Regions from separate parts of the Homo sapiens genome. Here region 1 is linked to region 2. A link means that fine-mapping ties the variant in region 2 to the expression of a gene that starts in the linked region. Tissue or cell type: skeletal muscle. Region 2 holds a variant in brackets; the other region holds the start of a gene. All regions are shown on one strand. Distances are between the middles of the regions.

The links. PIP is the estimated chance that this variant, and not a neighbour inherited with it, causes the effect.
Region 1: it holds the start of SULT1C4, and the variant in region 2 is the best candidate, but not a certain one, in a credible set for the expression of SULT1C4 in skeletal muscle (GTEx, PIP 0.70).

Annotation. Positions count from the first base shown.
Region 1 is chr2:108,376,042-108,381,272 of GRCh38, forward strand. It overlaps SULT1C4 (sulfotransferase family 1C member 4), which reads left to right and starts at 1,913. Exons shown (of 7, transcript NM_006588.4): 1 at 1,913-2,465. The coding sequence starts at 2,297.
Region 2 is chr2:108,844,680-108,849,910 of GRCh38, forward strand. It overlaps CCDC138 (coiled-coil domain containing 138), which reads left to right. Exons shown (of 15, transcript NM_144978.3): 12 at 2,059-2,251. It also overlaps a transcript of RANBP2 not described here. Among named protein-coding and RNA genes, the nearest start is that of CCDC138, 61 kb to the left of the region's middle. RefSeq lists a silencer at 1,350-1,550. The variant A/G (reference allele first, on the strand shown) is at 2,481.

The DNA of each region.
Region 1 (5,231 bases), 470 kb before region 2:
AAAACGAAAGGCTCAGAAGAGATAAGTATTAGAAAAGTTACACAGCTATTAGGGGGCAGTTTAAATTCAAACCCATATATTTAGAATTCCAAAGCAATGCTTGTCAAATATAGACTTAGCACCAACTTTATTCTTATAATCACTAAATATATTTATTTAATTCTCCTAACCTCATGAGAAAGTACTATTGAGTAAAAACATTAAGTGAGAATAAGAGCAGTGTTTGTAGTCAAGATCACTTTTCAAATTATTTGGAACTTCCCATCTTCCCTGGATCTATTTTCAATCCCAGTCAGTCATCTTTGGGTCCAGAAGCATATCCTCCCCCATCTCCCAGCCCTCCCCCTCTAGCACACAACGCACTGGAGAAAACTGCTAAGGCATTGCTGAATATCTACCACTCTACTCTGATGGCACACAGGGCCAAAAAGATTATAGAATAAAATCTAACTGAAAAATTATAGGTGATTTTTATAAGTCTGTTTAAATGCATATGCATCCCAGGCATTCCACCTGGCAGTCTCTGTCTCAAGGGCCCATCCACCTCACCATGGTCTGGAGGGAGGGGATGAGGAATAGGGAAAGCCAAAGAATTGATCTTTTCTGAGTTTGCATCCAGAACATGGGCCACAGAGAAATGGTGAACAAAGTCACCCATTATTATTAACAGCTATGATTTATTCAACATTTCCCTGTTGCCAAGCATTAAATAAGCTGTTTTATCTCCCCACAACCATGAGGTAGATAATGTTAAGATCCCCAATTCAGACCTGAGGAAAAGCGTGATATGAAACAGAGAAAGATTCTGTAACCTGCCATTGCCCACAGCTACTGGGACTTGGCACAGGGTTCAAATACAGGCAGCCTGACTTCTCTCTGAAGGATGTCAAGCCACAGCCACCATACTCACCTAGTCCCCACATAATGATGGCCCAAGGAACTCGCTTCCTCAATTTTTGCTTAGTTTTACTCATTCATTCTTTCGAGAAATAGAAGAATGCCAGACACTAGGCATACAGCTATCAAACAGTGAGAAAACAACAGGCCCCATTTCATGTGCCTTAGAGTGTAGTGAAGGAGACAGAAAATGCCAACAAGTAAACACGCAAAAACTAACTGTCAATGGTTGCTCTAAAGGAACACAAAGTGCCATGAGCAAGGAAATAGGAGGGACCTACTTGAGATGACATAGAAAGTCAAAGAAGGCTTCTCCAGAAAGGGGGCATCAAAGCTGGGACACGAAGAAAGAGAATCAGACAGCCAGACACACAAGAGCCGACAAGATCTCCAGAAGGAGTGCTGCCATGGGGAGCAAGTGTGGCATGGCCCTGGGGTGCAGGCCAGGCCGGGGGCAGGGACTGAAGCAAGTTGTGAAATTTCTGATTATCAGGGGCAGAATGGATTCCTAAGGCAGCCACTGTCTTCTGTTAACTCTGGAGTTTTCTGCATCCCTTTTGCTTTAAATGAGGCATACATGTTTTCATAGCTGTGATGAAACCCCTACAATTCTCCAGTTTAGCATTATTTATTTTACTCTTAAAAAATAACAAAGCTGACCCTGGCAGATGTTTGTACTGGGAGATTCAGATCCATCCAGGCCCCCACTGTTAATAGCCCACGGGAAAGTCCCTGCAGTCTCTCAGGGAAGTCATTCTGTGTAGAATCTGTAATTTCACAGGCAAGTCCTGCAACTTTTTAATTGTTTAAAATTCCCAGAAGGAATAATTACTGAAATTATCTATGAAGGGTTTAATGGACACAGACATGAGAGCTATAAACAATGTGATACTATGTCCTGTTAACTCACAGAGAACGGAAGGGCTGGAACGGGACCCAGCCAGCAGGGTTTGTGACCGCCTCTGCTGTGACGTCACAGCCTGGTGAGGAGGGGGCTGCAGTTCCTCAGGAAACTGCCAGTGGACAAATTCATAAACAAGAGCTCCAGTTCCCTGGAACCTGAGTCGGGAGACCTGCAGCTCACTTTCTCCCTGTTTGCTGGCCAGCAGGGTTTGTGGCCGCCTCTGCTGTGACGCCACAGCCTGGTGAGGAGGGGGCTGCAGTTCCTCAGGAAACTGCCAGTGGACAAAGTCATAAACAAGAGTTCCAGTTCCCTGGAACCTGAGTCGGGAGGCCTGCAACTCACTTTCTCCCTGTTTGCTGGCCCAGACAGGCCTGTGCTAGAGGGCTGGATAGTGTGGTAGTGTGGTGGATAGAGTGCTGCCTCTATCCACAACGCAGCCATATGCTGACTGAAGATAACTTTGTGTCTGGAAGAGCCCTCTGATTTCTTACACTAATGGCCTTACACGACATGGAGGATTTTACATTTGATGGAACAAAGCGCTTAAGTGTCAACTACGTGAAGGGAATTCTTCAACCGACAGACACCTGTGACATCTGGGATAAGATCTGGAACTTCCAAGCCAAGCCTGATGACCTGCTTATTTCTACCTATCCTAAAGCAGGTAGGTGGAAGGGCTTGCAGGGGAAGGGGAAGAGGAGAGTTAGGAAGGTAAGTGGAAGTATGCATTAGTCATGAAATAAAGAAGTTGATCTGGAAAACTCTGGACAGAGTGATATGGCTAAGGAAAGTTACTAGTGGAAACTGAAGCTATACCGAAACATACTAAAATGACATACAAATTTTTAGAATTCAATCTTCCTATGATACTATGATGTACTTCCTTTTTTTTTTTTTTTCACTTTCCCAGGAGAGAGTGAAAACAGTTAAGAGCAAAAGGGTAGACTTGTTTATTTATTCATTCCCAATCTAGGCCCTTATTGTAGATCTTGTAAAAAGCTGCTTTGAGTGTGTGAGCTAGAAAGGTGATCCTGAGTCTGATTTGGGAAAGAAATAGGGGAGCTTTGGTTCTGCAATGCTGATATCACCTCAGCAGCCCTCCCATCTCAGGGTCTGAGAACCATCCTTCTGATTTCCACCTTCCTTTGTGGTAAGTTTTGAACCAACTGCCTTATCTCAACAATCAGTTTAACAAAGTTGTCTGTAAAAGTAGGACTAGCTTAAGCCGAGCCACCACGTCATAAAAATTGGGTGATGATGAGGTGGAAATAGTTCTCTATAAATATTTTTGCATATCTACATATCTACTAGAAATACATTACTGGGTCCACACACAAATTGTATATACATTTGCTCTTTGCAAAATCAAGCTGTCAAAAACTCTTGTTATACACACACAAACACACACACATCAAAAAATCTAAACCTCAGTATTTTCTGAGACTGTTCAAAATCCTCTTTTGTTCTTATCTCTCAAGATCCTGACAGAAGATTCTGCAGGCACATGGAGGCCTTGGTCTCTTCTTTGTCCATCTGTTTCATTTTGGTCCTGATTTCCCAATCTTACTCATCAGGAGCCCATTCAGGATCAAATTTTTCTGAATGTAAATTTCTAAAAGTAGCCACTGGTGAGGATCACATCTCATCATCTTAATTTCATTGACAATTCCACTTGATTATCAATTCAATACATAAATAATCTTTTCTCTATCTGCCAAACGCAAGTACAAAGATATGGTTCATTTAGGTTTTTCATGGCATTAATGAGGTTTAAGCAATTCAAAAAGCACACTAAGAAAATTAAATACTTGCCATCTAAAGTAATATTTAATCATAACTAAAACCATATACATTAATGAAGGCTATTTTATTAGAAGGAAGAAGAAACAAGCATAGATGGCAAAAATAGTTCACCCTAAATTTTTAAAAGAATAATACTCTGAATGACACAAGAAAAAAATACATCATAGAATCACTGGCCTCTAGAGAATAAATTGAGAAGTCATTCCACTCACCCCGGAGCCTCTAGCAACATTTGAATCTGCCCTCATGTTGGCTCATGTCTATAAATTCATTCAATTCATTCATTATAGACATTCAGTGTTATGGCTATAAATTCCCATAAAACTAGTACAAATGGCTGGACTATTCTTTGCATGGATAGCTAAAGATATCTTGGCCCTTTGTCCTGTAATAAAAGTTGCTGCCAGAAAATACAGGAGACCAACTACTATAAAATATAAAATGTAATTTAATTTTTTTCTAACCTATGCCCTTATTCTAGGCCTTTAAAAGCACTAAATTGAGAATATGGGAAAAGGAATCTATAGAGTTTCGGCCAGATAATACAGGAAAGATCAACCTAGATCAGGATTCAGAAAGCCATCCTGGCTAGGCATGGTGGCTCACACCTGTAATCCCATCACTTTGGGAGGCCAAGACAGGGGGATCTTTTGAGGCTAGAAGATTGAGACCAGCCTGGGCAACATAGGGAGACTCCTATGTACAAAAAAAAAATAAAAATTAGCCAGGCATGGTGGTGTGCACTCACAGTCCTAGCTATTTGGGAGGTTGAAGCAAGAGGACCATTGAGCCCAGGAGTTGGAGGCTGCACTGAGCTAGGATCCCACCACTGTACTCCAGCCTGGGCAACAGAGCAAGACCCTGTCTCTGGAAAAATAAAAAATAAAAAAAGCCATCCTAAAATAACTCAACATCCTCCTAACCTGGATTTTGCCAGAACATCTGGTGCAACAGATCTTCATCAAAGGGTGAAGATTATGTTGATAGCACAATATCACTGTATCAGTCAGGATCAGTGCAAGACACAGACAGACTGAAGCTGGGGGATACCATTCTACCTATGGCCACAGTGGCAGTGGTTGGGTCTAGGGCACTGGGCCATGGAACGTGGAATGGTCTCTGCAAAATTTCTATCTGCTGGGGCTACTATCAGCAGCCACCACCTCAGGAAGGATGACTTCTATCTCCCCACTGCCTTCCAAAACTCAGGCTAATGCATCTCACTGGAGGGATCTAAATAGCCTTCAGAATCTTAGTGGCAAAGGAGTTTAGGGAAGGCCTTTTACAGCCTTTCAGCCCATGAGATATGGGGGAAACAGAGAAAGGCGAAAAATTGAATACTAAGTGCTAATGGTCAATATCAAGTTCAAGCCCTAATGGTTCACTCATTCAGCCAACAAATACTAAGTGTCTCCTACGCTATGCAACTGGGAAAAAGAGAGTTTGAAAATCATGTAGTCATTTCTCTATAGCAGATCACAATTTGGGGAGAATGTCCTTTCTAAGGACAATACAGCTAAATAAATAGAACAATAATAACAATCCAAATTAATAGTTGTGACAGAAAAAAATAAATGTATATTTATCAGTCTAATGTCCATTCAAAATTGGAGTATTTTTTTAAAAT
Region 2 (5,231 bases):
CAACAACCCAGAGTGCTATTTTTGGAGTTTTTTCTCTTTTCCTTCAATTAAAGGCAAATACTATCCACATTTTTTTTTTTTTTTTTGAGACAGAGTCTTGCTCTGTCATCCAGGCTGGAGAGCAGTGGCACGATCTCGGCTCACTGCAACCTCCGACTCCCAGGTTCAAGCGATTCTCCTGCCTCACCCTCCTGAATAGCTGAGATTACAGGTGCACGCCACCAAGCCCAGTTAATTTTTGTATTTTTAGTAGAGACGGGGTTTCACCATGTTGGCCAGAATGGTCTTGATATCCTGACCTTGTGATCCGCCTGCCTTGGCTTCCCAAAGTGCTGGGATTACAGGCGTGAGCCACTGTGCCTGGCCCACATTTTTTTTTCAAGTTTATTTTTTCATTATAAAAGTGTAGTAGTAAAGCATTAGAGATAATTTTAAAAACAAAAAAAGTTTACCTTAATCCTGTCATTTAACACACTTATTGTAAGTAGAGTTTTGAACATTTTTTTCTATTTTTTACACAAAGGTTTAAAAACATGTATTTTTTTTCTAATAATATAAAAATTGTACTGACAATATATTTAAATTAGATTGCACTGCTTGTGTGTCTGACCACTCAACCATTTGGCCTTTGTCACCTGTAAAACCTCAATAGATTTGTTTTTAATTTTAGATGCAGAAATTTAAAAGCTAAAACTTATCCACATTGCAGGATCAATACTGAGTTAGGAACCAGTTGGTCACAAATTTTCATGCAGATAGGGGAAACTGCTATAAAAACTCAGTCACATGAGATTGGAGAATTGGGTCATAATAAAGGAAATTTTAAGTTTTTACCAAATCTGGTTTAAGCATTCTGATCTGCAACAGTTTGAAATGCTTTCCTTTCATTTGATTTTTTTTTTTTTTTTTTGAGATGGAGTCTCGCTCTGTCACCCAGGCTGGAGTGCAGTGGTGCGACCTCGGCTCACTGCAAGCTCCGCCTCCCGTGTTCACACCATTCTCCTGTCTCAGCCTCCCAAGTAGCTGGGACTATGGGCACCCGCCACCACGCCTGGCTATTTTTTTGTATTTTTAGTAGAGATGGGGTTTCACCATGTTAGCCAGGATGGTCTCGATCTCCTGACCTCATGATCTGCCTGCCTCGGCGTCCCAAAGTGTTGGGATTACAGGCGTGAGCCACCGCGCCCAGCCTCATTTTATTCTTAATAGATATATCAAATACCATTAGATCATATATTATTTTAGAGGTAGTTTCATGCTACTATTTCTATTTTGCCCATTTTTTTTTGTTTTATTCTCCATGAGAATTATCTATGATTCTAACCCAGTATTTTACTGTTTTGAAATTGCTAAAAGTTTTTGGAGTCACTATGACTTTTTAAATCAGAGTTAGCTGAAGGGACTGAGGCTCTAGATAATCATTTCTTAAGTGAACACAGAAGGATGTGCCTGATAAGCTGGTTTTCATTGATGGTGGAGCAATCAGCAACTGAGAGAGTAGGTAGTCCACCTCTGTTCCCTTGCTATTTCTCTGTGTCAGAAATATAGCATGATCTTATGTTCTTACATGTTTTAGAAAAATGTACAGTCACAAATAATTTTTTAAGTTGATAAAATTGTCACTTTCCAATTTTACATATTTTCAACTTTAAATTAGCCACAGATTTCACTTACTTTTAATACATATATTTGATTTAATATTTAAAATAGTTATTGGCCAGGCACAGTGGCTCATGATCCTGTAATCCCAGCATTTTGGGAGGTCAAGGTAGGAGGATCACTTGAGCCCAAGAGTTCGAGACCAGCCTCAGCAACTTAGTGAGACCCATCTCTACCGAAAAAAAAAAAAAACCTGAGTGTGGTAGTGAGTGCCTGTAGTCCCAGCTTCTTGGGAGGCTGAGGTAGGAGGATTGCTTGAGCCCAGGAGTTTGAGGCTGCAGTGAGCCATGATTGCGCTACTGCATTCCAACCTGGGCAACAGAGCAAGACTGTGTCTCAAAAAAAAAGATATATTCTGAACATGAATAAATATACTAAGATTGTACATATTTTTAACAGCACTCGACTATGACATCAACATTGAGGAGATTGGGTGAAGACATTTTTAAAGGAGTGGTAACTAAAGGAATTCAGGATAATTCTCCACAGCATTCTGTGGAGAATAAACCAAAGACAGCTGCTTTCTTTAAGAGCTCCAATTTGCCATTGAGATTTTTATCAACCTTAATTGTTCTCAAAACAGTCACTCAAGGTAAGCTTTCAATTGTACTTATGGTTAATTTTGAGAAACAATAGAGAATATCATATATTAAAGCAATTCTTTTATCAAATATGTTGTACATTTTCAGAATGAGGTTTTGAATTGTTTTATAATGGTTACACATTATAAAAAGCTACTTTTATTTGCTGAATTTGAGAAATTGAAGTCTTTAGTTGGATTCTTGCCTCCTCCCAAGAGGCCTTTGATTGTCTTAGGTCAT[A/G]TTCCCATAACAACCTTTGCCTACATCTATTTGTATTTGTCACATCAAATTGAAATTGCTAGTTAATTATTTTCCACTAGCGAATGTGTTGGTAAACTAGTCCATGGGCAAAATCTGGCCTACCACCTGTTTTGTAAATGAAGTTTTCTCCCACAACCATGCTCATTTGTTGTATATTGTCTATGACTCTTTGCCCTACAGTGACAGAGTTGAGTAGTTGGCAGCAGAGACTGTATGGCCCCCCAAAGCCTATAATACTGTCATCTGGCCCTTTACAGAAAATGTTTTTCAGTGCTTGCACTAGCTTGTAAGTTTCCCAAAGAAAAAACTTGTTTATAATGACCCTGCACCTAGTGTAGTGCTTCATATATAATAGTGAATAAGGAAATGGATGAATTAGAAATCCTTCAAAGTTGGCCCTAATTAATATGTGTTTAATATTTAGCTATAACAGGTTATATTATTAAATGTGATAATTTTTGTTAAAGTGAGTTATGCCAGTGTAGTCAGGCAATAAATATACCATCTTTCTGTCTTCCCTGTTTGTTAAATTTTTTGTTAAGCTCAGATTGTTGTTTTTATTAATGGGCAATGACAGTCATTTAATTTGACTTCTTTCTTTGAAGTATGTTTCATTTAGTTACTCCCGATGGTATGGAATTGATGAAAAAGTAAAAAACCATATAACTGCCTTCTTAATTATTTTGCCTCCTTATGGTTATGGTTCTCAAGATTACAATAGACTAGGTGGTTAGTGTGTGAAAGGTCACTTACGAGAAGCAGGGATTAGCTCAAAATAAAGTTCGCCACAGACCTATCTCCAAATCTTAAAAAAAAATACACACACGCTTACATACCCACAGGTAAATGGATTCTAAATAAGAATTTTAGCTGACACATCATAGCCACACATTAAAGCATAGATTCACTAAAGATCAAATAATATTAGTATCAAGAATTTGAAGCCAATTTAATATAAGAAAAATTATTAATCATTTATCATTTAACTAAGATGTTTGAAATAATATGTCAACATACATTATATCATTTAATAACATGTAATGTTCATTTCTGATAATATGCTAAGAAAAGCAAAAATGCAATAAGGGATATTTATGTGAAATAGAAGGGAATTAGGTGCTCTCTGTCACCACTTGTGTGCAGCAGTTTTGGACATCTGTAATGAGCCATGAAAAAATGAAGTATGAATATTGGGAAGGAGTAGAGAAGACCGTTAATTTGTGGAGACTCTGTATTAATCGAGGGCTTTCAAAGAAATATAACAGGGCATAAGAATATGGATAAATAATGGATGGATGAATAGGTTGATGAAGATTATTGCTGAAGTTAAATGTCAGAAATAAAGAACTTTTATTCTTCCTGCCTATGAAGACGAAGTGTTTTAAAAATAAGATGTCCCATATGGCTTAATGTATAATACCAGTTAAAATTCTAATATAGTTTGCGTAAGTTGAGGAAGTGTTAGGGAAATTTATGTGGAAAAATTTGCAACAAATGCGATGATTTATAACAAGTAAAACAGCAACACTGGGGCAGAGGCTTAGCCAACTTTAAAACAATCCTAATATGTAATGATACAAAATGAGTAATAATTTATTTAATAAATCAAAATAGGACAAAGGGAATAGGAAGTCCAGAAATGAATCAAAATTGGCACTTCATATTATGTATTGAATTAATGACTTTGCTTCCCTGTGCAAGTCATTTTTTTAAGAACATAGAATCTTAAATCATATGATACAGATGATAGAATTAGTAGACAAGTCTTTACTGCAGTTATTATAACTATATCCCTGTGTTCAAGAAGGTAAAGGAAAACATGAGCCTGGTAAGGGGATACATGGAAGATACGGGATAAAAAGACTTCAATCAGATTTCTGCAAATGAAAAACCCAGTGCCTGAAATTTAAAAATACACTGGAGAGAATTAGACACTGCAGACAAACGACTAGTGAACTGGGATACATAGCAATAGAAACTGTCCAAAATGAATTACACAGAGAAAAAAAATCTACAAAAAAGAAAACAGAACATCAGTGAGTTTTGAGACAAAATCATATATTCTAATATTATGTACTTAGAGTCTATGAAGAGGGGAGACAAAAACTATTTCAAGACATAATGGCTCCAAATTTTTGAAATATGGTGAAAACTATAAACACACAAATCCAAGGAGCATGTCCAGCTGAGCTCATGGTCACTCCTATTCCCTTTTCCTTAGCCTCCTCTAGATACATGTGTGCCATCCCTTTCCTCCACACCCTGGCCACTGGATTTCAGGAATACTGCCTCCCATGGTGACTCTCCATGACCTTTTCAGTGGCTTCATCACCTCTCCCTAGACCACAGACAGGCCCTGACACGTCTCCCTGCCTTCACTCTCTAGTCTCCCTTCACACTTGTTGTGAACGATTCTTTCTCACAAGGTTCCTGCCTAACAGATACCCTTTAAAGCTGCAGGCTCCTCAGCCTGGTGGCCTCAAAAAAGAAAAAGAAAAAAAAATCTGACACTAATCACTGTGGAACAAGGAAGAGATACAAGAGTTCTCCCTTTCCTTATAGTCTGGCCTCTCCCAGCCTAGGCACAAGGGTTTCTTATGAGCCCAAACCTGTGGGGTTCCAGTGTTCATCTACTACCTGGGGCCAAGGTACATGCTGCTGCCATCAAGAAAGAAGCCTGAATGCTGATGAGTCTCAGGGAGAAGAGCACTTTCTGACTGCAGGTGTTCT